Regions from separate parts of the Homo sapiens genome. Here all the other regions are linked to region 2. Evidence: fine-mapped expression QTL. A gene starts in region 2. Each other region holds a variant in brackets. All regions are shown on one strand. Distances are from middle to middle.

Region 1 (8,187 bases), 180 kb after region 2:
TGTGCACTCCCTTTTCACCATCTGTCACCTTCCCTTGCAGCTTAAGGAGCCCAGTAAGTTTTGAAAATGTTTGCGAATCAAACTAAATTTAAGTGGGATGATTAGATATACACAACACCAAGTGGTACATCTGCAGAGATAATTCAAAATTCCTGCTTTTGAGAGAGCAAATGAGTGTTGCTGAGGAATAATTAAATGAGAATTTCATAGGAGCTCCACCATTCCTGTTACTTTCATTTCATTTTGATTAATAATTCTTGGATGCTTGGCATCGATCGTATCACTGCTCCTAGAAGGTAAAGATCCTTTAGGACATGAGACTGGTAGAAGCTGGCTGAGATAAAATAAGTATTTATTTAAACTAATGTTCTCTTAATTTGACCATTGCAGATTTGGGTGACTTTTTTTTAACCTTTGTACATATACGTAATTTATATGATTCTAATGTACTATATCCATACTTGAATTGGTTTTTTCGTATTTTGCCTACTGGCAAATATTTTGCCTATTTTCAGTCGTTCTAACCTATTTGAATACGCTTTTCCTTAAAGTGATACGATAATATTACTCTTGATTGCTGCTGCTTAATTTGATGTAATATGTTTAAAGTTCAGCCTCTCAGTTTTAATATAGCTTTATTTTTCAGTGGAGATCATTGTTTAGGATGAGACATTTTTGGTTTTGGTTTTGTTTGGGTAAATTTTAAATGGTGTGAAAATCGATGACAACAGTCCTCTTACAGATAGCTTGCTGTATTCTGTATAGCTTACTCTACCTGCAGACAGAAAATGAAAGAAAAAAATGGACTTGCCTAGAATAATATATTGAATGCCTTTTGATTTAGCCAGAGTCTCTGATGATTAGCTTTCACTGATAGAGTATGTCTTTTCAGCCTGTAATTCTTTGGGCCCCAAAGAATGACAAAGGAGGCACTCGTTCTCTTTTCTTGCTGTATGCCTAGAAAGTGGTTGAAGGATTCTTGATGCCCTAAAACCATCTTGTAAGCTAAATGGTCTTGCATCCAGAAAGGCCAGATTTTACCTACCAAGAAAAAAAGATATTTTTCCAGAGAGTTAGGTATATCATAATTTTCCATTTCAAGTCCTGTTTATAAGTCTAGTCATTCTGCAACGTGACATATCCCCCAAAATGAAGTTACCTTCCAAGTTGGACACGTCCCGTAGTTGGGCATATGTCTAACTAAAAGTTTCTGACTTTTAGTAAATTCAGCTTAAATATAAGTTGAAATTTGGGAAATAATTTCCAAGCTCTTGGAAGGGGTAACAGTGAACCGCCCTCCATGGGCTCCACATCTTTTCCTTTGGCTTCCAAAGTCAGGTCCCGCCCACCCTGCCTAAGGAACTGCAGAGAGGTGGCAAATCAGCAAAAAGGACACCAGGCTCTTCTTGGCCACTTGTAGGAAGATCCCTTTACAATTTTGACTAAGGAGATTTTTTTTTTCACAGTTGAGTTAGTTTGTGAAAATAAAGAACTCTGTAGCTCACCAAGGTGGAGAAACGCAATTCAGAAAAGTAATTTCTCCAAGGTCACTTCTTTTTTTATGTCTTGCCATCACTTTAAAGGACTAGCCCCACTCCCCCATGTGTATACACAAGGAAATTGCAGACCAATTAGTTGTCTTGGCCTGACTCTAATGCCTTTTGCAAGTAGCTTTCCAGAAGTAAAAGTCCCAGTGATGTATTCCCATAGAAATATTTTTCAGTTGTTTATGTCGTTTACTACAAAAAAAAAGATTCAGAGTGGATGGAGTACAACTCTGAGTATTTTTCTAGTCCGGAATTTTTTATTAATAATCGGTGCTGCCGGGTCATGCATGCTGCAACTCTCAACATTTCCCTTATTTGGTTCAGCTTTTAGCAAAAAGGGCTACAGTTCACCCTGCAGAGTATTAAGGTTTCTGGATTTTTTTCTCCCAACTGTGGCCCAAAAGAATTAAAATCTGTTAATATAAATAGAGAACATATTTATCATTCCTCGATAGTTAATTATAGACTTTGGTACCTTTGTGCCTCAGGGAAGCCACGTGATATAACTGGTTATAGAATTTCAGGGTTAGGGTTTAAAGAAAGGAGAAAGCCATTGGAAAAATGATGGGCTCCATTAAGGAGACTAATGAATCTGGATGCAGAAATATGTCAGAAACTGGCATAAACATGATTGTAGTAGAATTTATTTTCCAGTACCAATAGGGAAATTATTTTAAGTTATTACATTTACTGTATTGGGAAACTTGAGGAGAACTCTTTAGTTCATAAAGCTTCAATGTCTTTTTTTTTTTTTTCATGGAAAAACTCAAACCTCTGTTATTTGGGAGCTCAGTATTGTGTGGACACTTACGAGAGTTTTCTGCTTAATTGAAGTGTAATATAGGTTGTAGAATTGTTACCTGCAGTTCTATGGTTTTGTTTCACTTCTTTTCTTTTTTAAAGCCATTCTGTTCTTTGGATGTGCTTGAAAGGGTGTGTGATTACACCATTGTTAATGCTGGGTAAAAACTATCTTCTTGCAGCCTTGCCTCATAACAGTGGAATTTCTGATAGACAAACCACAGGACTTTGATTTTAAGCCAAATCCATCTCCATCCCTTTACTGTCAATCTTCTGTCCCAGTAGTTTAGCCTTTGTGGCTTAGGTTATGATGCGCCTCCTTCTGTGCGACCAATGAGACGACTTCAGCATCTTTTTAAAATAATCTAAGCATCATTGAAGCAGTAACACAAAAAAAAGGTTCAGTATTTTCTTTTTAGTATAACTTACATCCTTTCAAATAAGTCTTTGCCCTCATGAAGAATCCCTAGAGGAAGATAAGGAAAATAAGTATTTTCCAGTTTTGCTTGACAGTTTCTAAACAAACAAAAATAAACTCAATGAAAGGAAAGATGTTTCTTTTTAGCTGAGATGACAGATTGCTTCTCTGTATTAAATAGTCTAGAAGTTAAGGGGATGGTCACATTTACCATGTATTGTGTTATTAGCAGTTAAATTTTATGAATATGTTTGTAAAATTGTTGTTTTATATTTCATGTCAAATTGAAAAGTTTATTTCTTCACTATTGTACCTGTGGAAATACAAGCCATTTTACAGGAAAAAATCTTCAAAAACTATTAAATGGATATCAGCCTGTTTGTGAGCCATTGTCTTCAGATTCTGTGGTTGTCACTGAGTTCATTAGGACATTTAGTAGGTTGATACGAGTAGAACTGATTTTTTTCACTTCTCTAACTTCCAAGTTAATCTCCAGCTGTTGAGTTTATTAATTGTTTTATATTCTGCACAATACATATTTAAACCTTGATTCTGAAAATCCCCTACATTTTTTAATTAAAGAAATTTCCTTGGTGCCTATATTACTATTTCTCGTGACATTACATCACTGTCAAATAAAGTTAACTTCCAGGGGAATTTAACCTGACTTGTAGAATTAATGGATTTTTGTCATGATCATTTCAGCCATATTGCTGCTCTTGTGACAGTCTTCATTCACTTTTAACAACATAATAAGGATTGTGTATAAGCCTTCAAGCCTTCCTTGAAGCCTTAAACTAATATATCTATCATAAGAAAATGTATATATTTATGACAAATTTTGTTCTCATCACATTGATATTCAAAGAGTTTTAGTATTATTGAGAGAAACAGATTTTTCATTTCCAGAAAAAAAATGCACATTTATATAGGCTTTTATTTCAGGGGATAAGTGTTCCATACTTTGTCAAATCTAAGATGCCACGAATTGTGAGATGTGTTATAGAAAATCACAACTGGTTATAATTGTAAGTTACATTCCATTGGGCAAGGAATACACCTCACACAGCATACAAACATTAAATCAAAATGGGTCAAAGAGCTACAACTATAGAACTCTTAGAAGAAAACATAATGTAAACCTTTGAAAACATAATGTAAACCTTTGTAACCTTAGATTTGTCAGTGATTTTTGACATAC[C/G]AAACGTAAAAACACAAGCAACAAAAGAAAAAAGGCCAGGCACAATGGCTCACGCTTGTAATCCCAGCACTTTGGGAGGCCGAAGCAGGCAGATCACTTGAGGTCAGGAGTTCAAGACCAGCCTGGCCAGCATGGTGAAACCCCGTCTCTGCTAAAAATACAAAAATTGGGCGTGGTGATGGGCGCCTGTAATTCCAGCTGCTTGGGAAGCTGAGGCTGGAGAATCGCTTGAACCTTGGAGGCAGAGGTTGCAGTGAGCCGAGACCGCACCATGCACTCCAGCATGGGCGACGAGCGAAACTCCGTCTCAAGAAAAAAATAGAAAAAATATATAACATTGGGTTTCATCAAAATTAAAGTTTTGTGCATGGAAGGACGCTGTCAAGAGAGTAAAAAGACAACTCACAAAATAGAAAATATTTAGGGATTATATATTTGATAAGGAACTTGGGTCCAAAATATGTAACAGGCTCTTACAACTCATCAAAATGCAACCTCTTTAAAAGACGATCAAAAGTTTATAACTTTTCAGAACATTTTCCAAAGAATGTATTAAATGGCCAGTAAGCACATAAAAACATGGCTCGACAATTAGCCATCAGGGAAGTGCAAATTAAAACCACACAATACCACGTTATACCCACTAGGATGGCTAAAGTCAAAAAGACAATAATGAATGTTGGCATGGATGTTGAAATACACTCATAAATTGTTGGTGGGATTGTAAAATGATGCAGCTGCTTTGGAAAAAATAGTTTGGCATTCCTCAAGAGGTAAAATGTATGTACAGTTACCATGTACTCCAGCAATTCCATTGCTAGGTATATACACAGAATTGAAAACATGTTCACACAAAAATAGGTACATGAACGTTCATAGCAGCATTATTGGTAATAGCCGAAAAGTGGAAATAAATGTCCATCAGCTGAAGAATGGACAGACAAAACATGGTATATCCATACAATGAAATATTATTTGACAATAAAAATGAAGTACGATATTGATACATACAACATAGATGAATCTTGAAAACATGTTAAGTTGAAAAAGCCAACATATTATATGTAACATATTGTATGTAAGAAATAGGCAAATCCACAGAGACACAGAGTAGATTCATGGTTGCCAGGAGTTAAGGAAAGTGGAATAAGGAGTGATTACCAGTAGACATGAGGCTTATCTGGGGGAAGATGAAAATGTTCTAAACAGTGGTGATGGTTATACAACTATGTGAATATGTGAATGGACCAAAACCCACTGAATTATACACTTAAAAGGGTGAGTTTTATAGTGTGTGAATTAACATCTCAATAAAAATTAAAAGAAAACATGCATCCTAAATTCAGAGATGTTAGATTATGAAGAGTTTGTGTCTTAGAAACCACCATGCTATGATCTTTACTTAGTCCTTCAGGTAAAAATATTCAGGATTATCCAGTTTCTTGCTGCCTTGAGATGTTTTCCACAATGTGACAACATAGCTCAATTTCCTTACACTTTTACTTGTCATTAAATAAAGTGAACATCATATAACCAAACACCACCTGTTTAAAAAAAAGAGAACATACACATAAGTCTTCCAAAAAAAAAAAAAAAAAAACCACCAGACAACTCATATTCTAAAGGATCTACCTAAGATTTTTTTTTTCTTTTTTTTGAGACAGTGCATTACTCATGTATTTGTGGTGATGCTAGTATGCTAGTGTACACAAGCCCACTGCACTGTGATATAAAAGTATAGCACATGCAATTAGTACAGTACATATTTGATAATAACTATGTTATTGTACTTTTTATAGTTATTTTAGAATATACTCCTACTGTATAACAGGTTAGCTGTAAAAACAGGAGTTCTTCAGCTCCATCAGGATCTTATGGGCTCACCGTCATATATGCAGTCCATTATTGACTGAGGCATTGTTATGTGGTGCATGACTCTGTCTTTCTGAACTTAAAATAAGAATTTTAAATTGGATGTCGGTAGCAGGAATGTGTCTGAGGCTTGCAAAATGGGGCCGTGCTTCTTATGGCTGCGGAGCTGTAAGCCTGAACAAACTGTTTTCAAGCTGTTGTGCCGCCCAGAACACCCACTGCTAATTATGGGATGTGCATTGGAGTGCCCAAATGGACCATTCTTAAGCATCACTTCCTTCTTTTGTCTTCTAAACAGGTTCTAGTTGAAGAATACCAAGGTTATTCTTGTTAGCTAAAAGAAGTATAATGAGTTCTTTCTTGCCTAATTTCAGGTTTGAACTTAAGCTTACATCAGAATTTCCTGAGGTTTGCTTAAAATGCAGACTCCTTAGCTGCGTCTACAGAGGCTGATGTTGTAATTTTCTAGGTTTCTCTCCATGAATTTTCACTTTGGACAGACAACCTAGATGATGTTACAGGTGATCCATGTTCTATACTTTGATAAATTCTTCTTCGGCTAAATGATTGTATTGACTGTATGCCTCTGCTGTGCAAGTTACTAAATTCCCATTGTGCTCATTGGTTTTGGCACATCCAATGTGGTTTCCTGGGAACTTGAGGCATGTGGCCCCACATGGAGATGGGAATGGATGGCCTAGCCAAACAAGGGCCCTTCCTGCCCCGTCAGTCTAGCTGCGATTTTCTCTTAGGTGAATGGATCTGACTCTCTTAACTCCTTTGCCTCTTTTCTAAACTTGCATTCCCCATCCTTTGCCATTGGTTTTTAGTTCGTGCCTTTAACCATTTCCACTCTACAGGAGAACAACCTCCAGAAATTTTCAAACTGGTTTGAAAGAGTTCAGTGTTAAGGATGAGGTTTTTTTGTACATAGTGCGGGAAGCTTGCTGAATTCTCAAAATTTTCATTAACCTGATAGAAACTTGCTGTGGGTAAGCAAACTGGGTGTCATCAGGGCATATTTCACAGGCTTTGGGTTCCTATCATCTAGTGATGTATTCGTAATAAAACTGGGAAAGGAACTTTTTTTAATTTCAGAGTTTGATTTCTGTATACATTCTGGAAATGTTCTGCTGTTTGGATTCATTGAGTTCAAGTATTTCCTTATCTATAAAATAGAGGTGATGATAGTGTTTCTACCCCTTAGAGATGTAGTCAAATCAACATAATACAGGCACTATGGTTATATAGTAAGTGCTCGCTAAATGATAGTTGCTTATATTATTCCCTTGCGGTAACATTACCCAAAGCGTTTTCTTTAAATTTTGAGTCCCAGAAATTCTCTGCAAAAAAAGTCATATAATCTTATAACTCTGAAAAATAATCTACTGTATCCCAAATTCATTTGACTGCAGACTTTCTTTTTTCTCCCCATATAAGGTATTTTGAATTCTTCGTGAATGCTAAAATTGATAGAATTTAGCTATTGTGGAACTATTGCCATACATTCTCAAAATTTATTTTAAATGAAAACAGATAAGCATGAACCCAATGTTATTGCTATTCATGTGGTTCTAAACCCTAATCTTCACAGAAAAATACTGTTACTCCTTATGCAAAACTCTGTATCACAGCCTCTATGACTTAAAACAGTTTAATATGGTATTACTGATGACCATGGAATAACTTTATTTTATGAAAAGAAAGACATAGCAAATATACTTGTGACTACATATTTGAAAACGCACTATAAGACTATTGACAATTAATGCACCACCCTTTCAGTTGGTAGATGTTTCTCAATTTTAAATATATTTATTTTTATGATATTGAAGCCCTATTCTGTTATTAGAATTAGTTTATTTATTTGGAATAATTCACTTCTTGGATTGGATGGATGCCAAGCTGGATTATTACCCTAGGCTGCTGATGGAAAGCATCCAAAAGTTTTACCAGTTCTTTTGTTAGTTTCTTGTATAGGGTAAGAATAAAAACTCATTTAAATTGCCATAATTTATGCAATGAAACCCAATAAACTAGCCAAATTTCAAGTTCCTGCCTTCCATCAACATTTCCATTAGATGAAAACTCCTTCTTTATCTAAACCAATTGATGGTAGTTAGATCTTTTAATGGATTTGATTCTCTACTTAACATTCATGAGTCTTTAGGATGAAAACTGCTTCAGAAAATGAAGATTTCAATGACTAGTTTAGTCTGAATCATCATGGCTGAAATTAGAAAACACAAAGCCAGTGTGATCAATGGGAAGATCATTGACATAAGTGTCAGTTTCTGTTAATGGTGTGGCCTCTAATTAATTTTGTGATCTTTTGCAAGTTACTTAAT
Region 2 (8,187 bases):
TGACCAAAAATTAGATGCTTCATTCTAGAAATACTGAAAGGTATTTGACTGACTTTAGGTATGTTTAAAACAAACATACACTTTTTCACTAAATCTTTTGATTTTAACAAAACAGGAAGACACAATTGGGGAAAAGTCAAGATAAAGCCTTACATTATTTATTTGTATAGTAAGCATATGGCCTCTGGTAGCCCAAGAAATAGCACAGACTCCCTCTGGGATGATGTGGGCGGGTCATCCTCTTCAAGAGAGTGGTCTGGGGTGAGGGACATAAATGGAATGGCAAGCAGAGAGAGCAGGGAAGGGTCTGCCCTGGCAATCAAGTCAGCCAAGCCCACCCTGGCTCTTAGTGGGTTGGCAGATGGCACAGCCAGATTGTCCCACCAGCCTGGAGCAACTCACTAAAACAATTACATTCAAGAGAGGATAAATCCATGCTACAATCAGATTCTTAATATTAACTGGGGATGATGGGGTCATGTCCTAATTGGTTTAAGTTGTGAGCAAATAACTCTGATAAGAGATGCACAGAGAAAGTCACACGCTGGCTTCTTTAGGAACACAAGCCATCAACGCTCTGAGAAAATCAAGTTAACACCCCTCACCACTCTGCCATCCCCCCAGCCCTACCATTTGATACCATTTGAGAAGTGTTTTTACCTTTACTCATGTCTGTTTCCTTGAAATCAGAGAAAGCAACTGTGGGGACCTTGGGTACATAGAGTCTAGAAAAACAGACATAGTTTTGATGGGCTCATGCTGTGTTTCAAGAAAATTGAAAGTGTGAATGAGTTGCCAACAGTTAAAAATTGAGAGGTTTGGTGTAATCAGGATTTGAGGCTTTTAGAAAAATTACATCTAGCAAGAGTGAACTGTCATTGTCACATGGCAACAATCAGCTAGAGATGAGTGACAGATAAGCCCTGTAGACGGCACAGACCCTACCAATGTGCCACAGTCCTCACTCAGCCCATTTGCTCATTTGGATTTCCATGCCTGGTCCCTGTATGTATTCTTGACTGTGATCAATAGAATTGCTCTTACCAGTCAGAAGCTTTCAGGGCTCAGAGTGATTCACAGAGCTGATCTAGCCTTGAGCTGCCTAGGATAAAAAGCCTCCATTGACACAAAAACTCATTCACAACAACACTTCCTGTAAGTCAGTCTGATAAAGACAGACCTGATTAAGTACTATAAACATTCTCAAAGACATGTTGGGAGAGTAGAGAGACATGTCCCTCTGGAAGTCAGGGGTGCCACAGGCAGATAGCTAGACGGGGGGGCCTTGGAAGATTGGGATATCCTATGGGAAACTCTCAGCCTAGTGCTGGGAACTTAGTAGGAGGTTAATACATATTTCTTTCTATCTTCCTAAGAGCAGATGCGAAGCACAGCAAGGAGGAAATGCAGCCAGAACAGTATAATGCAATGCAACGCACACAGGCACAGCAGGCCAAGAGAGAAGGAAGGAGGTAATGGTAGCCTAGAGAGCAGAAGCAGCAACAGAGGAGGCCTAGAGAAGCTAGGGTGACAGAGGCAGGCATCATCGTAATCGTGACGGCGCAACTGCAGAATGATTCTGACAGATCTTTGATAGTCATACAATCTATGTGGTAAGTAGATGCACAGAGTACATGAAGACAACATTAATCCAGCAGAAATTTGAAAGAAATTTACATCAACACTGGGGAGGAGACATGATTTATCCCTTTAGTGAAGGAGTGCTGGTTAAAACTGTAACAGATTTTTTATTACATATAAAAAATATAGAGAATACGTAATATATGCAGAATAACTAATATTCATTTGAAATACAGAATTTCTATAGTTAGCTGAAATAAGTTAACTGTTTAATAAAGTTTATTTTTGGCTTACCAGTGGTGTGGCTTTAGTTACTTTGGAATAATTTATTTCTAAAACCTCAATTAAAAAAATCAGTTCCTAACTGAAGTAAAATTATCAGAAACATCATGTCACTACCGTAATAACCTGTCAGAGAATGTTACACAAGGGGTGCAGCACAGCGGAATGGAAGGTTACAGATGCAATTATTATTTTTTCTAGCCCTTTGCTTCGGGTCATAGCCAACCAGTCACTATACACAGGGTAGCTTCTGCAGTATTTATTTCTTTAAATATTTAACAGTGTTGAGAGGCAATGACTCGCAATAATATGTAGAGTTTCTAGCACATTATGAGTGCTTAATAAATGTTAGAACAATAAAATCCTGTATGATGAAAAACAGCAGTCAGTAAAACTATACAGTCTACGATATTTTAAAGCCATAGCAATAACTAGTTTAAAAAGAATAGAAAGCAAACAGTGCATTGATTAAATCACGGTCATAAAGGAACATTTACGTTCACTAAAAAGTCCACCCAGGTAATTTCCCCTTGTATGTATTAGGGGATGGAAAGAAGGCACAGGAAAAGTGGATAAAGTATGGATTAAAAAACAACTCTTCCCCCATCCCCCCGCCACCCCCCAAAAGCCAGGTGGAGCTCTATTGACCACAAGCCGGGGTAGCTACATCCAGTGCAACGGTGGGGTGCTCCAAGCGCCTTCGAAACGTCCTCTACGCCAGCACCAACTGGCAAAACCTTCTAATTTTCTAGACGCCTTTCTGCTTGGTTTTGGAAGGGGAGGCACCCAAGTGGGTGTGTGCGACACCTCTAGTTGTAAGCCGGGACACAGTGACGTCGAGAGAGCGCTATTCTACTCGGAGAGGAAGTTAATCCCATCGAACTCCAGCCAGGAAAACGTGGGCTTGGGAACCGCGGCCGCTCGTTTCCAGGATCTCCCGCGGGCCTTCGCGGCTGAAGAACCAGGCGGCGAGGGCTGAGGACCCCGCGCTCTAAGTTTGGGGAAGGAAGTGAGGAAAAAAAACAGAGCTGCTCCTTTAAGAACTTCCTTTCCCTTTTACTCTATGTTTACATAACACAGGGGCCGAGCCTCCGCCGGGCCGAGGGGGGCGGGGAGTGGGCGCGGACGGCCCCACGCGCCGGGGGAGGGGGCGCCCCGCGGGCCGGGGGCGGGCGCCTGGCTCTGCGTGGGGCGGGGCGGCTCCCACCTGCCCGCGCGCTGGCCCCCGCCTCCCCCGCGCGGCCCCAGCCTCTCGTGCGCCCGCTCCCTCCTCCTTCCCTCCCTCCCGCGGGGCTTCGGCGGCGGCGCTCAGCGCAGGCAGGTCCCCCTGCTGCCGGGTCCCATTTGTTGCCGGCTCTGACTCGGGGCGGCCGCGGCGCGCGGAGCTCCGGGGAGTCAGGCGGAGCAGCCGCGCAGCCACGACGGAGCAGCAGCGGGACTGGCCGCCCCGCGCCCCCTTCGCCGCCGTGCCCTTCCCCGGCGCGCTCACCCCGTTCTCGGGATGGGATTGTAGCGGCGGCGCGGACTCGGCGGGGATCGCGGCGGAGGCGGCGGCGTCGGCGGCGGCGTCGGCGGCCGAGCGGGGCTCCATGTTTTCCCCTGGCCAGGAGGAACACTGCGCCCCCAATAAGGAGCCAGTGAAATACGGGGAGCTGGTGGTGCTCGGGTGAGTCCTGGGGTCCCTGGTCCCGGGCAGCGGCGCGGGCGGGGAGCGCCCGCATCCTGGAGCGGGGCTGGCGGGGTGGCTCGGTGCTCTTTGGGGACCGCCGGGGCGCTCGGGGCGGCAGGAGAGGCTCTCAGGGCCCGGACGGCGGCGCGGGGGCGGGATGCGCCCCATCGGCGCGCGCTCGGGGTGCTGCGGCGGACGCCGGGCTGCGCTGTCCGCGCGGAGGACGCGGCGGAGGAAGTGGCCAGAACTCGGGCGACCCAGCGGGGGCAGCGCCGGGCACCGGGTCCGCGGCCGTATCGTGGGGGCGGGGGCAGGGGCTCCACTTCCCGCGCGCCGCGTCCGGGCCGGGGAGGGCGGGCAGGGACTCCATGTGAGGCGCCGCGGTCGCGGGCGCTTCGCGGGGTCGCTTCCCGAAGCTGAGAGGCCGGCCGGCGCGGAGCCCCGTCTTCCCACCTCCCTCGCGGACCGTGGTACCCGCGCCCCCGAACTCCGAGCGCGGCGCCGTGAGCTTGGGCCGCCGCGGGCTGTGGGATCCCCGGCTGCGCTTTGCAAATTGTTCCGATGACCGCCGCGGGCCGCCGCAGCCCGAGAGCAGTGAACTGTGTGTGACCCGGGCCGGCCGGCCCTCCGCTTCTCCCCGCTTGGAGTGCTCTGGAGGGGAGGGACAGGATGCGGCTGCTCGGGGCCTGGCACCGGGGCGCGGGCCGTATCCCCCCGGTCCCGGCCTCGCTGATGCCCTCCCGGCTGCGGGGAGCTCGCCAGCCTCGCCCGCCTCGGCTCCCTCTCTGCTGGTGAAAGCCGCATCTTGAAGATAGTAATTATGTACAATCGTTAAACGGCAGCAATTAGAGACTTCATCTACTTCCTGAGTTTCCTTGTGACATTTCTATTGTTTACCCTTAATAAGCCAGGAGAGAGGCTTTGCGGGCTTAAAACTGGATATAGTGGGCAGTGAAAGGGGAGGGGGAAGGGGGAAGTGCAGGAAACTGGGGGGAAGGAACAACTTGGGTTTAGTGTTGAAGAAAGGATTATTTTTTCCTTTGGATGTGTCGCTCTGGGAACCCGCGCTTTTGTCCTTCTGCGTTGAAAGACCTGTATTCAGAACATCCTCGGCGCTGATAGGTAGGCTTAGCACACATATGAGGAGTCATGGCTGTGGGAAGACTCAGGGAACTTTGCAAAACGTGTTTTGATAAGTGAGTGCCTTGAAGTAAGTGCTGACTTAAAAATAATTTAAAGAGAGGAGTTTTTGAGGGAAGCTTCCAGACACCGCACAACTCAAAGCTTCCCAGTCTTCCTGACTTTGTTGCTAGTGCATTAAGTGGGGGTGGTATTGGAAATCTCATTACCTATTTTGAAGCTGTTTGCAGATAAGTGTTTTTCTCACCTACATCTTAATTGCACTTCAAAGACAAATATCAGGGTTCACAGGAAGGCGGGAGGAATGACAGGAGAAAAGCCGCAGTTTAGTCTGTCTTATGTAACTTCAGCCCAACCTAATCTTGTGGAGTTTGGTTTTGTTTGTGTGGCTGGCTTCAGTGTGTTTAACACTGTGAACTTGACGCGGAAGATTAACGTATGCCAGAACTTTATTTCATTATTTCCTTTTGAGGAAATCATTGTTGAGATGTTTCAGAAAAGCAGCGAGTGGGCCTGGAGAGGTTTTGTGTTCATAGCTGGAAGTGCAGGGCATTCCGAAGCCACGGAAAGGATTGAAACCCTGGATTGTCCTAGTATCATAGTCTCACTCCACAGGAGCCCGGGATATAACGTTGCAGTTGCATATGGTCTGCCCTTTGCTAATGCTTTTCCAGGAGACCAAAGTATGACATAGTTGGCACTTAGGGGGCGAGACACTCAACCGTCGTTTGTGTACCTACTCTGTGCCTGTGCTGTTTAGGCATTGCTGATGCAGTGAGAACAGGGAACTTTCCTTTTAGAGTGGAGTGACAGGCATAAACAGAAAGAAACATGCAAATAGAGGAGTAATAAGTGACAATTTCAGGTGCAGCCAAGTTCTGAAGAGGAGTTGATAAACTTGGAGAGTGACTGCTTAGGTGGGTATTGGTTTCTTCGGCTGGAAGGTGAGGGAAGTTCTCTCTGAGGAGGTGAAATGTGAGTAGAGGATGCTAGTCTGGTTTTTGAATACTTGAATTGTGGTATTTTTCTTTTTTCGAGGGTAGGTTTCTGACTGTTTACCAATGTTGAACACATTGAAGAGTGCAGGTGAAAGAGTGACTAGGTAGGAAGATTTTTAGAGAGAACCTTATTCATATTCCACCCTTAGGATTTGAGACAGTGTACTTCATCTTAAAACAACAATAACATTCACATAGAATTAATATCATCTTTATGATATTATCTTTATGTCCTCTGGGGTATAAATATTGGAAAACAGAAAATTTCAAGTAGATTTTCTGAATAATGAGATGATTCCTGAGATCTAAAAATGCCTAATATTTGGTATTGATAGAAGCTTTGCTTGTCAAATTCAGTGCTTTTTTTTTTTTTAATGGTTATGTGACTGTCCTTTTTGCTCACTTTCGAATGTCATAGTGAAACATTACTAGGAAATCCTGGAGAGCAGAATGAAGAGCTGATAGATGTCTATATCCATATCTAAATACTTCTATATCTTTTTGTGTGTTACACAGTATTATTAAGAGATTCCACATAGCTAGGATTTTAGTGAGCTCATCACTTTCTGGGCTGATTAGTGGAATTTAATTATTTCATGATTCCAGCCAGTTAATGTATCATAGCCACAACTCTTTGTTGTGTCCACTACTTAACTGAAGGTAGAGAAAAATGACTGGTCTAACCAGCAGGTCTTTTTGCTATAATTTTAAACTTACGTTTTAAGGTTAGGGAAGTGGCTCAGGATTTGAGAGGCAGTTTGGTATAGTGGGAAGAACATGCATTTACAGGTGGGTGACCTGAATAAGCCCTTCTCTCTTGCTGACTGGCTCTGTGACTTTGGCTTAATTCCTCCTCCTCCTCTCTGTTTCTTTATCAATTTGCAAAATATGATTGGATTAGGTAGGCTTCAAGAGCCCTTCCTGGTCTGTGCTCAGTAATTCTGTTCATTGGCGCAAATGTAGAAACTATTTAGTTACATATTCTAAGTTCCCTGACAGTTGTTTTAATAGCAGAAAAGATCAATGCTGTGGTTGTTTTTTATGAAGATGTGCGTAAAAACAGAATGTTTAAAAAAGTTGTAATGATATACATCTGTTTGACTCATTGGTGTTAGGTTACCCATGGGAGCATTTAAATTGTGTAAAACTTTATGTTCCAAGTTTAAGAAAGACAGTGATGTTTTGAAATTTAGCTAAATAGACTGAAATAACCAGCATAAAGAGGAGATGATCTCATGATAAAAATTTAGAACTGAATAGCATTAGGGGAAATTCCTAATGTAGATGATGGGTTGATGGGTGCAGCAAACCACTATGGCACGTATGTACCTATGTAACAAACCTGCACATTCTGCACATGTATTCCAGCCTTAAAGTATAATAAAAAAAAATTAGGACTGGAAGGGGGCCTAATGGTCATGGTATATGTTTAGCCCTTATATTTTATTCTTGAGGACACAGGCTCCCAGAACAAGAGAGGTTCAAGTTCATAGTTGATCTGGGCTGAGCTGGGTGGCTGTACTCCCCTACTCTACCCTTTCCTCACTTTAAGACAGATTCCAGCAGCGCTGTCAGTTCCTCAAAGCATCCTTTCTGGATTCAATTTGAAGCATGTGGCTCTCTTGCTGACTAATGGCCCATGGTGGTTTTTGGAAAAATATTGCTTACTCTCTTAGTTCCTCTCACCTCACAGTTGAATGGATAATGCATTTTGCAAGACTTTTTTTTTTTCTTTTGATGCTTCACAAAATGTATTTTTATTGGCTCTCTCAACCAAGGGTTCTTAACCTAGGGTCCACAGATGGAGTTCGGGACATTCTTGAACTTAGATGGGGGAAAAACATGTCTTGATTTTCATGATATTCAAACTGCAGTTTAGCATTTTCATTCACTTATGAGTGTAGGCAACAAAAAGACTTGCTGCTAGATTTTGTTATTTAATGCATTATTACAGAAGTGCACATGTGTATAGCAATTTAAGACTTTTGATATTTAAGTATAAGTGATTCCAATTGTAATCCTTTGTATTTTATTTTGTATGTTTAAAAACATTAGTCTGAGAAGGGCTCATTACATGTCATCAAACTGCCAAAGGGATTCTTGGCACAAAAAGAGGGTAAGAACCTCTACAAATGAAAATTTATAAATATGACTAAATATGACTGAAAAATGAAGTATTTTAGTAGAAATTGATAAGCTCTACAAAAGGAGGTAGATACCTGCCTCATTTCCTTTGGATGATTCAGTGTTTTGTTAGGTAAGACAAAGAGGGGTATAGTAGCTTGTAGAGTTTATGGTCTTTTTTTTTTTTTTAAAAGCAGGTCCCACTTTCTGTATGCTTTTTGTTGTTGCTGTAACCTCAGCACTTTGCCTTGACTACTCCACCCTTTGGTGGCAATAAGAAACCTTCAAATATACCCTAACACTTTTCCTTTTCTCATCCTCCACTCTAATTTGGGCCCAAAGACATCAAACATTAGTATCTTTTATAGACTAAAAGGTCTTTGAACTTTAAAA
Region 3 (8,187 bases), 150 kb before region 2:
CCGACGCTCTTTTCCCCACCACTCTTTACTACTTTCAGGAGAAAAATGGTCTGGCAAAATATACAGATTCATTCAGTAATAACTGTATTGGCTCCCTGAATTATTACACTAATATGATTATATTTTATTATAATATACTATACATTGTAAATGGTATATTGCAATATATATTATTACATACATAACAATTCTTTTATTATTATATAAATATTATTGTTTATTACCAAATGCCATTGTGAGGGTCAGAGGTCAATCAGGCATGGGTTCTATCATTAATGAAATGTCCATAGCTATAGGAGCAACATGACAGAGCTACAAATAACTACAATGCAAGGTCAAGCATATGCTCTGGGAGGTCAGAGTATGGAAAGCTTCTGACTAGGAAGGTTGGGGAAGTGCTAGAAGGTGATTTTTGAGATGGGCTCTGCAATATGGGTTATATTCACACTTATGGAAATGAGAAAGAGGGCATTCCAGGCAAGGGAAATGGTTTGAGAAACAGAAAAGAAAACTACACTTTGGTGGATATCCACCGGGTGCCAGAATTTTGCATATGTTATGTCACTTAATTCTTATAAGAGCCCCATGGAGTGGTATTGTTGTTTGTCCCATAACCACCTTGAACTCAAAATGTCCAAGCTGAACTCATCACTTCTTTCTGCCTCCTCTGGCTCCAGCTCCCTTGTGTCCTGTGTGTCTGTCTCAGTTAATAGCATCACTGTCCATTCTGTTGCCCAAACTTGAGTCCTGCTCATGATTCTTGCCTCTCCCCACTCCGCCCATCAGCATCATCCAGCCCTGTTGATCCCAACCTCTAAACATCCCTGGAGTCCACCCACTTTCCTGGTGCCTGGCTGCCTTGTCCCTGGTCCAGGCCACATGATCTTTCATGCACTATTGCAACCACCTTCTGCTAGCTGGCATTGCTGCTCCTGGTCTTACCCTCCCACCCATTCTCATCCAATCCATTCCCCACACAGCAGCCAGAGAGATCCTTGTAGGATGCAAACTGGGTCACATTCTTCTGATTAAGACCCTGTGATTGCTCTTCATTTCCCTTCAAATAAAGTCCAAATTCTTGAACAAAGCTTAAAAAGCCTTCATAATCCAACCTCTGCTTCCTTCTCCAGCCTCATTTGGGACCATTCTCCATTGCACCTCCAGCCTCCAGTTACTCAAAGTCTTTCAGTTCTCTCCTCTGTACCTCCCTCTGACTGCCCACCACTCACTGGACCAGCACCCAGATTGAGCAACTCCCCTATCCCTCCACTCCAACCCAGAGGGTGAGCTGCAGAGCTACAAGAACTAAGTCTCTTTGTTCACCAATAAGTATTTTTTAAATGAATGCATTGATTTTAAAAACTGGGGCTCAGAGGGCTTTAGTTACTTTTCTGAGGTAAAACAGTTAGTTAAGGGCAGAGTTGGGGATCTGAACAAATCTGTCTGTATCCAAATCTAATGCTTTTCTCATAGCATCATGGTGTCTGTCATACATGGGTAAGTGGGAGGCACTCAGGAATTCACTTTGCCTAGATCACAGCATGCATATAAGAGAGGACTAGGAAACAAAATGGGAAATCATATTGCAGGCCTAATCATATTGTATATGGCCTTGTGCCCTAGGGTAAGGAATTAGGACTTTATTCCACAGACTCTGGGGAATCATGGATGATTTGGGGCAAGAAGTGACAAGAGCAGAGTAATTAGGTTTCCTTATGCCTTCCAAAAGTGAAAGAGAGGGCAGAGGAACAGAAGAAGAATTTGGGGCTTTTTGCCATGACCTTCACTTATAAAATAACACCACTTACCTTGTATGACTTTTGTGAAAATGAAAATAAATATGCAGGTAAAAATGCTGTGTAGCCATCTTCCTCTTAATACATGTCACTGTGGTTTTCTTTCTCTTAATGTTTGTTAAAGGGGACGCAGACATTTGTAGCTGCTTCTAGAAGACACTGAGTGGACCCTTTGGGAAGTCACTCTCTGGAGGTGGTGCTGAGAATGTAAATGAAGCTTTCCGGCTCCTGGGAAGTTATAGACTTGTTCTTGGAGGCAAGAGAAGCCACAGACTGGAGCAGCTGAAAATTTCCCAAGTGATAGACTGGGGCAAGGGACAGGCAAGGTGGAAGGTACAGCTGTAATGAGAGATGCCCCAGGAGGAACAGTTGCCAGAAGACACTGCTGGCAGCCCCTGTGAAGGGGAGCAGCTGGAAACCAGCATTGGGAGCAGCATGGAACAGCATGAAGAGGGGGCTCTGGCTTGGGCTGGCCCCAGCCTGATTTTCCCTGGGGGGAGGGGAGGGCTGTGCTAATTATCTGCTCAATATCAAGACGGCACCTGGAAATAAATATTTTGTTGTAAATAATAATGATAACTATTTTCATTATTATTCCATTGACTGAAGAGAGGAAAAGACAAATCCAAAGCCCACCAAGTCTGTCTGTGAAATTGCACCTGAAAAAGGTGGTAGATATAATTCCCATCCAGTTAAGGCACAAATTAGCCTGTAAGAACAGCTCCCTCAGCCCAGAGAGTTTTGCAGGTGGTCATGAAAGTGAACTTGGGACTTAGGTTATCCAAGGAAGGCCTGCTGAAAGGATGATTTTTATGTACTTTTCTTTGGAATCACTGTTTGGAAAAGGGCGTAGTGGTGTAGCAGGACAAGCTGCAGACAAAACCCCTCAGACACTGAGTTGAAGGAAGGGCTTTATTCAGCCGGGAGCTTCGGCAAGACTCACGTCTCCAACAACCGAGCTCCCCGAGTGAGCAATTCCTGTCCCTCTTAAGGGCTTACAACTCTAAGGGGGTCCGCGTGAGAGGGTTGTGATCGATTGAGCAAGCAGCGGGTATGTGACTGGGGGCTGCATGCACCGGTAATCAGAACGGAACAGAACAGGACAGGGATTTTCACAGTGCTTTTCCATGCAATGTCTGTAATCTATAGATAACATAACCGATTAGGTCAGGGGTCGATCTTTAACTACCAGGCCCAGGGTGCGGTGCCGGGCTGTCTGCCTGTGGATTTCATTTCTGCCTTTTAGATTTTACTTCTTCTTTCTTTGGAGGCAGAAATTGGGCATAAGACAATAGGAGGGGTGGTCTCCTCCCTTAGTGGAATGTGCAAGATAGGAGTTATTGTAGAAGCCCCAGTGGCCTGGGTCAAGGCCTGGACTTGAGAGGAATGCTTGCAGGTTTTCTGCCACCTTTAACAGGTTACATTTCCAATTGGCATTAAGAACTGCATACAAACTTAGAGAAACCAACTTTCAGGAACAGGAGATTAATTTTCTCTTCTTGCCTTCCCTAGCACAATAATGCATTCTGCAAATACCTGGTGGGTTAATTGACTGGAACCCTCTAAACTGCATTTCCTATGGCTCAGCTCTGGGCTACAGGTCTTCCTGGGAAATTATTAAGCAGGTGAGGTAGAAATGTACGGAAGTAGAGGTCAAACGTTCTGAGTTCTTTTCTCAGCTCTTCTAAGAATAAACTGATATAAATGATGTCTACAACTGACCAGTTTTCCCTATGGCACTCAACGGTTTTTTTTTTCTCACATCTTGGCAATGAATATGACTCATCCAGTGTAACAGGTCCTCATAAGTAAAAGCTGAACATATAATTTTGACCAAAACTCGTGTAATTTTTCAAAGAATTAAGTTTAATTCATTAGCAGGGAGAAAATGTTGTATGTGGGTGCCACAGGCTAGATTTTCTTAAGTTACCTATGAAAAGATGATATAAATGGAGCTGATTTAAAATTACCTATATCTGAGAACATCCCAAACAAACGTTGGTTTAAAATGATTCTTTCAGTTGAATTGGACTCTTTTGCAAGTACAACTGAGAGAACTGCCCTTTAATTTGGATCTAGTTTAAATTATTTAATGAATCCCCTTTCTCACTTAATTGGACATTAGGTTTAAGAATGAATGAAAGTGCTTCATGTGCCACATAATAGCTAAACACTGTCTGGCAAGCAGCAAAACCAGCTGACATTCTTGAAGAGATGGATCAGTGGTCTGGTCTCAACCTCAGGCCTGGGAAAGCCATTAACCAAACAACTTAAGTTTCATTTTTAATTTAATGCACTGTGTTTAATGCAAAATGTATGGGCATCTTGCGAGGCAGTGTGCTCAATTGTGGGGAATGGCTGTCATCCCAGTGGGTTTATCTTGCAGGCTTGTGGGGCTGCTGTTATTTCCTGGTGGGTGTCTAAGGGAGGAGGCAGGAGAATGCAGAGAA[T/C]GTGGGGAAATGAAGACTTATGAAGCAGTCCTTTGATTAGATTCGAACAGGCTTCTTTATCCTGTGTGTGTTAGGCTCTGGTGTGCCCTGAAGGAGACTGTGAGTGAGGCTGTGGGTGAAATGCCACACTGGTCCTTGCTGGCTTTGAGACTGCTGGGTCATTGCAGGAATCCAGGAAACAGAATTCAACAGACTGCTGTGAGACACTGATAAAGTTATAGAAATGCCACCCTGAGAAAGGGAGAAAACAGGAGTTCAGAAGGAAATCCACTCTGGATGCTCACCAGGACCACTTTCCAGAGTCTCTGCCCTCACCCAGCACATATTTCCTGGGTGCCTACTATGTGCCAAGCACCAGGCTAAGGTCCTTGGCCTGCAAAATCTTAGTTTTGGTAGATATAATTCCTATCCAGTTAATTAAGGCCACGTTAAAATTTGTAAGTCTTAAGATACACAGAACATTCAGTGGAGACATGAGGAACAGTGTGACTAAATATTGGGGACATCAACTTAACTCATTGCAGCAAACATATGTCACATACCTGTAACATGTTAAGCTCTGTGCAAGGTGCCAATGACAGGCAAAGCAAGAGCAGACCTTACCTGCATGGGCCAGAAAGGGCTTGGAGGAAGTTTACATGTTTAGATTAGAGACATAACTTGAGTCCCATTATGGAGGAAGACCCAGAGACTTGGGAAAATGTAGAATGCTGAGATAATCACAGGAAATTCTGAGAGAGAGAGGGAGAAAGAGATAAGTAGAGAGAGATTAGGTAGACAGATGGCAGTAAGGAAGTTTCAGGCAACAATGCAGGAATAGAAGGATGTTTGAGGCCATCTTTGTAGCTTTCTTTGTAGTGCTATGCCACTGAGTTTTGGTTTTTATCTTGTAGGAGCTGGAAGCCAATGTAAGGTTCAAACAGGGGGATAACTTGAGCACATCCACATTCTAAAACAATTACTCTGGCACTCAAAAAGGAGAAAGAGTGTATCACAAGTTACTGGAGCCGGTGGAGGGGAGCGTTCAGAAAGGCAGCAGTTAACCATTGGAATTGTCCCAGAAAGGTCAAGAAGGGCAATGACTGAAAATAGGCCACTGGATTTGGCAAAGAGGTCAATGGGGCCTTGTCCAGAATGGTGCTCTGGTGGCAACTGGATGACCCTGGCTTAAAGAGTCATTTTCAGGGAAGCAAAGCAGAGGCCCTAATTGTTCAGAATATAGTAGCTTTCTTGTGGTTGTTCTCCAGTCCAGTGAATGTGGTTTGCTTTGTAAGGAAGAAAACCCAAGGAGTGCAGGAGTCCTGGTGGCTCACTCATACCATCAGTTAATATAATGGCCCATGACAGCTGGACTGTGATGTGGGTTGTGTTGCCGCATGGTTTGTCCTTTAACCATGAGGACACAAGCGGCCTCTGGGGCAGCCTTTATTTAGCTCAGGGTCTTTTTCTCCAACTTGGGCTGCCAGCTTTCCTGAGTTTGTTGAGATTATCCTGATTTTTGAGTTTTCAGGATGCAATTTAAAAATAGGAAGCGTTATCGTCATTCCTATGTCCCCAGTTACATTTGTCATCTTCTGAAGATGAGCCTGGGAACACCCTGAGTTTTTTTTTAATTATTTGTTTATTTATTTATTAATTTTTTGAGACAGAGTTTTGCTCTTGCTGCCCAGGCTGGAGTGCAGTGGTGTGATCTCAGCTCACTGCAACATCCACCTCCCAGGTTCAAGCGATTCTCCTGCCTCAGCCCCACAAGCAGCTGGGCCCACCACCAGGCCCATTAATTTTTGTGTTTTTAGTAGAGATGGGGTTTCACCATGTTAGCCAGGCTGGTCTTGAACTCCTGACCTCAGGTGATTCATCCCCCTTGGCCTCCTGAAGTTCTGGGATTACAGGTGTGAGCCACCACACCCGGCCTCCTCCTTGAGTTTGGATGGGGCAGGGAGGAGCTCTGAGCGCTGTGACAAATCGCTGATAACCCATTGGAAAGTCTATAAAGGTGGAGTCACACCCCAGGGACCCTATCCAGTGGTTGCCAGTTCTGTTTCTCCACCCAGTGATAGAGCCAGACTGTTTTTATGACACTGCAATCCAGCCAACTCTTTGCTATAATCAATGTTTCCATTCTTTTCCAAAATAAACATGTGGACGGTCATTTGCAAACAGGGAAATGAAAGTTTTCCATCCCTAGGTGCAGTGCATATATTTTCGCAAACAAAGAATTTAGAAAAGGAATGTAATCTAATCTCTGGTGACTTTGAAATATGTCTGGGGCATTATATCTTGGAAGGTAATTTGTTTCTTTCATTTAGATTCAGGTAAATTCCCCCACCCCACCCCACCCCAACCCCCAACCTCCTTTCTGGCTTTGTACAGAATTGTCAAGCAGAATGGCTTAAAGACAATAGGACCTTATTGTATCACGTTTCAGGAATGAGCAATGAGGAAACAGGAGCCAAGCCTGGAAATGAACATGTCCTTGTAAATGACCAAGAGAAGATAGGAGTTAAAATATGCAACTGTTATGGTGCCAGAAAATTGCCTGCCCTCTTTGAACGGACCGGTGAGTGCTATTTTGCATTTATATCAGGTTTTAAAAATAATAAATGCAATTCTTCCTGCTAAAATGACATGTAATTTCATAACTACTTTGAAGACAGCCCTACCTTTTTGTATTCAAAGAAATGAACAGCTTAATGCCCTAAAAATCCCAGATATCAAACCTGTTTAATGTAAACAGATTTTGTTTAGTCTGAGTGATTGTTGATTTTATTTCAGAAAGAAATGACTGATTAAGAGTTGTGCAGGTGTCATGATCATAGCTTACTTCTTGTTCACTGGGGATGTCAGAGGCAGCCATGCTGTTTATGTATCCACTGAGCTAAATTAGTACCGTTATCACTTCAGTAAAGCTCAGATATTACTGTGTTCTCTGCTAAAGAAACCAATTACAGTATCTGCTGGATGGTATATTAAATGACACCATTTAATTAAAGCCTAATCTCTCTCCGAATGAACAATATTTAAAATTATTGTACGTTATTTCATTCAATTACTGCAAACCTCTGTCCATTTTTAAGCACAGAAAAAACTCATTTGGCACCCTGACAGCCAAGAAGAAGAATTGCTGTTTTGTGTTGTGTTTGGTGCTGAGAGCCCAGTAACAGTCAATCCAGGACACGCATCAGTTCATGAGCTCTTTTAGTTTTAAAATATTTCAGATTTGTTTCTCAGGCCTCTTGGCAGCCAAAGGCCCTATTCTACAATTGCCAGGTCTCCCTCCAAGGACTGGGGTATAATGGAGATCTCTAAAAAGAATATGTTTAGATGAATAAAGCCATTAAAGAAATACAATTCCCATGCCAGGAGCCAAGCTATGTAACTGACAGGATAGCAATTCATTTAGAATGAATATCTCATAAGGGAATGCAAGAATTAAAATGGACATAACAGTGAACTCAAGAGATTACCTGCAATAGAAAGGAAAATTCACTTGTTTGAGGGAGAAATGAGTTAAAAAGATGTAACTACTAAGAAAAAGAGATGGGGGGAGCCAAACGTGAATGGACTCTCATTCCCACTAGTCATTTAATTTAGCCATGGAGAAATGTTGGCGCACATTTAGGTGGCAGAGCACAGCAGCCTCTAGCCAAGTAACAGTATGTTGCTTCTTTAGCTTTATCATATCAAAGAATATGGTGCATGGATTGAGTGTGTTTATCAGTCTATTGGCTCATTAATAAGATCCCAAGAAAGATAAATATTAATAGCAATGATGCATCCCACATAGTGGAAATGGACTCCAGAACCCAGACTGTGGGTGAGAAGGTTGGAACTCAACCCTAGGCTCTAGCACCATGACTTGCTCACAGGAAGTCCTCTGCCAATGTCTTCCGGTTCCCTGAAGACATAATCTTGATGTGTGAATTTAATGGCCCAAGGCG

Direction of the effects. Alleles are on the strand shown, and positions count from the first base shown. SD is a standard deviation of normalised expression in the study named. Not every link is listed here.
For the expression in tibial nerve of the gene that starts at base 3,203 in region 2, T is the high allele of the variant in region 3 and C is the other (small effect, 0.26 SD a copy in GTEx).

The links.
Region 1: its variant is fine-mapped to the expression of PELI2 in whole blood (TOPMed, PIP above 0.99).
Region 3: its variant is fine-mapped to the expression of PELI2 in tibial nerve (GTEx, PIP 0.99).

What each region holds. Positions count from the first base shown.
Region 1 is chr14:56,298,159-56,306,345 of GRCh38, forward strand. It overlaps PELI2 (pellino E3 ubiquitin protein ligase family member 2), which reads left to right. Exons shown (of 6, transcript NM_021255.3): 6 at 1-3,366. Among named protein-coding and RNA genes, the nearest start is that of LINC02284, 8.7 kb to the right of the region's middle. The variant C/G (reference allele first, on the strand shown) is at 3,968.
Region 2 is chr14:56,115,209-56,123,395 of GRCh38, forward strand. It overlaps PELI2 (pellino E3 ubiquitin protein ligase family member 2), which reads left to right and starts at 3,203. Exons shown (of 6, transcript NM_021255.3): 1 at 3,203-3,529. The coding sequence starts at 3,453. RefSeq lists an enhancer at 2,591-2,830 and silencers at 2,961-3,020, 3,061-3,320, 3,611-3,680.
Region 3 is chr14:55,970,128-55,978,314 of GRCh38, forward strand. No RefSeq gene overlaps it. Among named protein-coding and RNA genes, the nearest start is that of PELI2, 140 kb to the right of the region's middle. The variant T/C (reference allele first, on the strand shown) is at 4,247.